Linked DNA regions of Homo sapiens: region 2 is linked to region 1. The links come from fine-mapping of genetic effects on plasma protein levels. Region 1 holds a variant in brackets. A gene starts in the other region. All regions are shown on their forward strands.

The links. A credible set is the group of variants that fine-mapping cannot tell apart. PIP is the posterior inclusion probability: the model's chance that the variant is causal. The UK Biobank Pharma Proteomics Project read protein levels with antibody pairs (Olink). The fine-mapping took linkage between variants from a reference panel, not from the people measured, so its PIPs are less certain.
Region 2: FGFBP1 starts here. The variant in region 1 is the best candidate, but not a certain one, in a credible set for the plasma level of the FGFBP1 protein (UK Biobank, PIP 0.75).

The regions. Positions count from the first base shown.
Region 1 is chr22:31,138,523-31,141,432 of GRCh38, forward strand. It overlaps PLA2G3 (phospholipase A2 group III), which reads right to left and starts at 1,986. Exons shown (of 7, transcript NM_015715.5): 1 at 1,319-1,986; 2 at 145-277. The coding sequence starts at 1,832. RefSeq lists enhancers at 1,490-2,048, 2,049-2,608. The variant G/C (reference allele first, on the strand shown) is at 1,364.
Region 2 is chr4:15,937,502-15,940,411 of GRCh38, forward strand. It overlaps FGFBP1 (fibroblast growth factor binding protein 1), which reads right to left and starts at 1,239. Exons shown (of 3, transcript NM_005130.5): 1 at 1,186-1,239; 2 at 750-970.

The sequences.
Region 1 (2,910 bases):
TCTGGCCTCAGCTTTCCTACCTGCACTGTGGGGTCCAAGCTGGCTGAGCTTTAAGATCCTCTGCAATCCCAATGTCTAGTTACCCAGGAACTGGGTAACTCTGCCCTGTCCCTGAGCTCTGGGCCCTCGCTGCCTGCCACCAACCTGGTGTCACAGTCACAGTGGGAGATGGTGTGGAATCGGTAGTTTCGGATGCCATAGTTGTACTGCAAGGGTGAGATGTTCTGTGGGCAGCGGTCATGTTCCCGGCAACAGAGATCAGGTCCCTGGAAGACCCCTGCAGGGAGGGGAGGGGAGAGGGCACCAACTCAGCAGGGTCCTAGGCATCATGCACCAGCTATGCCCCCCTGGTAGGAAGAGGGCAGAGACCTGGTTCTCACCCCAGCCCTGACACAAACGCCATGAGGGTCCTCAGACCAGTCACTCTCCCTTCTGTGGGACTCTCAGAGTTTCAAAGCTGGAAAAGAGAAGCCAAGCTGCAGCCTCTGTTGGGCAACTCTAAATGCCAGGTAGCCCACCCATAAATACATGGAAAGGTCTTCCTCAGGGGAATTGGAGTCTGCCTCCAGAGTTCCCAAGCCCACGCCCCAAATAAAACTCCAAAATTATGAATGTGTGTATGATGGAATGGCAAACAGGCAGGGTGCAACCTTTCTCACTGGCACAAGGAGGTGTCGCCAGGATGCCAACCTACTCTGACTCAGGTGCCAAGCCCTCCCCCAACCCTGCACACAAACGCACAGACATCTGTACTGATAGTGCAAGAAATTCATCTATGTTTATTACCATCTAAAAAATAGCACTCTTTACTAAGCATTTCCCACATGCCTGGCACTTCCCACATCCAGGTTCACAGCCAGCCCTGAAAGGGAGGTATCACCTTCATTTTACAGGTGAGGAAATAAGTCCAGAGAGGGGAAGTGACTTGCTCAGCTTGTATGTGCTGAGTTGGGATTTGAACCCAGGCCTTTCGTCTCAGCATCCATTCCACTGGGCACCCCGTGCCCACAAAGCCTCCTCCTGGGTAATGGCTTTTTGGCTCAGTTGACCCTGGATCCTCCCCCAGCCTGCCCAGTCCCTCGGATGGCATTTAATGAGGACTCCCAGGTTTGAATAAGACTTTCCCCAACCGTGACCTCATTTAAGCACCCCATGATGAGATTCGTGATTGCCCCCACTTTACAGATAAGGAAATTGAGGTTCACCATGGTCAAGTCACTCCCCCAGGGACACACAGCCTAGGAGAGTAAGGGCTGGGGCTGAAGAAACCTTGCTTCCCCGATCGGACCCCCCAGCCCACACACCCCTCATGGCTCACCCAGCTCCGAGGAGTTCCCAGCAGAATCTCCAACTCCACACCACA[G/C]TGTGCCAGGCATGGTCCATCCTCTCTTCTCTCGCTGGTGCCCTCCACCAGGGACTCCACTCTGCCCTGCTGCTCGCTTCTTCCTGGCCCCTGCTGGACTCTCCTCAAGCGCTCGGCATGCCTCCCACTGACTCTGAAGAGTGGCCAGTGCTCTCTGCAGCTCGGGTCCGGGGGTGTGGATGAAGGAGCCCCAGGCAGTCTCATGAGCACAGAGAGCACCGTAGGCTGCGGTGAGCTCCGGCTCATCCTCCCAGCTACATGACTGCAGCCTCCTATGCGCATCCCAGCGGGCATGGATCAGGGCCAGTCCCTGAGCATCCTTGGCCAGGAAGCTCAGGTACCCCAGTGGGTTGCCAGGGACGGCCTTGGTCAAGTGGCAGGAGGTCCTGTACCAGCGGAGGGCAGGGGAGCCCCCCAGGGCCACCCCCAGGAAGCCCAGCATCCCAAACAGCCCTGCCTGAACCCCCATTCTGCACTGGCCCAGTCCAGTCAGACAAAGCCCCTGGGATGCCTGCCCTTGGTGGCCCCACCAGGCGGCAGCTGAGCAGTGGAACGGAAGCGGAGCCCAGCAGGCCCGGTGCGGCGGGACCAATGAATGGAGCTGCGGGAGGAGGAGGAAAGAGGCTGGAGTATGGGGTGATCTTGGGCTTGTAACCGAATCCACCAGCCGGGCAGGACGCTGATTGGCTGAGGAGTGCACTTGCCAGGGCCCACGCCCCCATTCTGCCTGCCTTCTCAGCACCATCCAGTCACCTGCTGCCAGCCCTGCCTAGATTGGGACTATGGGAGCCAAAGCCCTAAGCTGTGGGATGGGGACCAGGCTGGGGCTTTCACATCTCCTTGAAGGGAAGGAAAAGGGTTCAGGAGCTTGGAGGAGTCCCTTAGAACCCACCCTTCTCACCCTTACCACAGCGGTGGCTGCCACATCCACCTCCATCAGGCTGGCAGGGGGCCATGGGCCTCTGCCAGGGCTGGGTGAAGGAAGGGCTGGGGCTCTGAAGCTACCACCCTGGGAGTTCCCAAGGCTTCTGGGAAAGGGAGTGCCACCTGGGGTGCTCCCCTGCCAAGTCCTGGTTCTTAGAAAGGCTCTCGGCATACTCAGGGGACAGAGCCCCAGGGCTCCCCGCTTCCTAGGACTCCAAGCATGGGCCTGGCCTTGCAGCAACCCTCCTGGTCTGATAACTGGGGGAGACGCAGCGGGAACAGGCCTTGAGAGCCACACAGGGCAGGGCTGATGCTCTGGATTTGAAAGAACTATGGTCCCTAGAGTGGCAGAGAGTGGCCCAGGGTGTATGTCTGTGGCCACCTCCATCCCTGGCCACCTGGGGGGACACAGCAGGCATCATGTGTGCCTCATGAGACAGGAATCTCTCCATCAGGAAGGGGCTATACCCAGGTATTGTTCCTGGATCCCAAAGCCCAGCTTCCAACCATCTAGTGAGGCCAGGGTGCTTACACCCATAGTGCAGATGAAGAAACTGAGGCTCAGTGAGGGTGGGAAAACCTCAGGTGACAGGCTCCAGCTGGGGAGGGCTTAGAGGATGGGA
Region 2 (2,910 bases), not on the chromosome of region 1:
ACACTGAACTGCATGAATCTGATCATGTGTACAATAAAAACCCATGCTTAACAGAAGAAGAGAAGTCAGTTTCTATATGACACCTCCTGTGTGCTAAGTACTGGTCTAGGGTTTGATTCCCACCTTGTGAAATCCACACAAGAGCTCTTCCAGGTAGCTATTAATATGTCATCCCAGGTGACAGCTCTGACTCTTAAGGCTCAGACAGGTAAGTAAATTGCTCAGGATCTCATAGTGGGCAAGTTCAAAGCTGGTATGGGTAGCCAGATCAATCTCCTTATTCCTTTCTGTCACCCCTGGTTGATCACTTTTTGCTTTTCACATTTACTCTGCCCTTTAAAAACATTGCCAAAGAATAAGAAAAACAACTATGAACAATGACAATTTAGTTTCATATAACACATAATGATAAGATGATTTGTATTATTTGTGCTCCATTTAAAACAAAACACAGAATTTTTTATAAAAAGAGGCAGACCCAGGAAATGGTCCTGATCTGATTTCTACCCTAGAAGTTGGCCATCTTCTAGGGTTAAGAAGGAGAAAGACAATCACAAAAGGGCAGAGAACAGCAATAAATGGTGAAGAGGAGACTGGATATGCCAGAAAAACACCCAGTCATTTCTCACGGCCCTGGGGCTCAGCCCCCACCTGCCCATGATGGAATGCAGGCCCAAGGAACTCCAGGCCCTTGGTGGAGTGAGAAGTGGCAGCAGGTAATAAAGCTGTTAAAGGAGCGAGGCTCTTACCTTGTTCTGAGCACACGGATCCAGTGCAATCCCAGGCAGTGCGAGTGAATTGCAGGCTGCAGCTGTGTCAGGTAGAGTGCAAGGGGGGTAGACTATTCAACAGGAGCCAGGCTGACTGGGTTTTTATAACACTCACTGGGTTTTTACAACACTGTGGCACGTTACTCACAGCTCCTCCCAGCCACGCCCCTCCGAGGGAGCCGGTTCCTGCAGGGAAAGTGCTGGATGTAATCCAGTGAAAAGGGGGGTTACCTGCATGCCATCAAACGCTTCCTCTAGGCCCTTCCCTGTCCACCCTGTGGCCAGGATAGGAGGACAACTCAGCCTCACAGTGACCCTCCTTGATGGGGAGAGGACCCCAGCAGTGATGTCTATGGAGGAGTAAAATAACTATAATGACATGATCCGAGCTGCCAAACTACTGAGCCCATTTTACCTGAGTTCTCCTTTTCCCTCATCACATCCGCTCTAGTAGGGAGTGCAATGATTCCTCCCCTTTTACAAAAGCAGGAATTGGTTCTGGAGATATGTAAGAGCTTGTCCAAGTTCACAGAGGCAGGAAAAGGAACATCTCAAAATTAAAAGTGAGATTCTCTACATCCATGGTCTGATCTCTTCCTGCCTGCCACTCTCAATAAATCTTTGTTGAATGGGTGACTGAAGTTGCCGAAGTTTTCGTAGTGTCTGAGTTCCTTTTTCCATCTGAAGTTACTACATAAGCAGAGGATACCCTAATTCTAGAGGCAGGGAAATTTACATTAAAAATTCCCTCTTTTTTATCAGGGAATTCTACCAGGCTCTGAGAGGCTGGTAAAGAGGGAATTTTTAATATAAGATTACTGTTGTAAATACTTACCTTCAGGTCTCATTCAGAGAGCTCAGGCTGCCCTGCCTGCTACAGGCACAGTCCCACACCAGAATGACCCAGGTGGAATCCTGGCCACAGCATGTGTTTAGCTGAGTGCTATGCCCAAACCACTTAGCCTCTCCCATCATCCATTTGCAGTGTGCTGACAATAACAACGTCTCCTTTATAGCTGCATACTAAATTTTTACTGGGCTAAGCTGTTAACATAAAGTGGAGCAGAATCGTTTTGCCTCATGACAGGGTCTTAAGTTGTATACTTTGAAAACAGACATTTGTTATTTACATATGCAGCATTTAAAAAGAAACTCACTTCTACAGGGAAGATGTGGCCCTCATTATATATTATCACCTCACCTTTCATAGATTTTCAGAAGAAGAAATTGTTCACTTTTCCTTAATTCAGCCATAAGAAAACTATTGTTTAGTGTGATATTAAATGGCAACTGACTTTTGGGTTTGAGATAAGGCAATAGGGAGTGATGGGGACTGTGGCAAACTAGAGAGTCTCTGCCTCCATAGAGGTCAACACTCATCTCCAATTGACTGAGAAAATGCAGGGATTAGGCTCAGTATTGTCACACTGTCTGATTTTTAAAATGACATCCCCAAATCCAGATGTGTTTATATGAAATTGGTTGGCAGCTAATTAAAATTTTCTAAAAATAAAGCTGTAGCTCAACACTATGCAGGCCAAAACTTGTAACTGTGTTTGGATTTTATGAACGATCCACCTGTTTGAGAATTCCGTGGTCATAGCTATAGATGTTGACCAATTTACTCAGAGGCTCAGTCTCTGCATGAATCTGTTGGAAGAAGCCATTTCTGAAGCTGTGTGCCTCTCTCCTAAAATTGCCTCACCCAGGGGTCCGTCCTCACTATCCTCACAAACACCCCGCTGAGGCCCTGACCTCCACGAACAGGCTCTCTCATGCGGTATTTTGGAGGATTATTTGGACATAGGCAAGGCAAAGCTGCTTTGCTCAACAAGGGGAGTCTCCTACAAAATGGAAAATTCTACTTGATCCTTGGGAGGCAGGCAGATTCTTTCTGGAGGCAGATTGCAGTTGGAACACAAAACATATTTACAAGGAAACATGTGGACTCCGGGGTCTTTCTGGGAAGTGCTTCTCTGAGCTTTGCCAGGTAACACTGCACATTCCCCACTGGCTCCTTGTGGCCCTTCCCCTTCCTGTGACTCCCATCCCAGCGTCTGCTTTGCTCTTTCCCTTCTAGACTCAGCAGCACAGCATCAGAGCAGGCTGTGGGGCAGTCACCTCCTTGGCTCATCCTGCC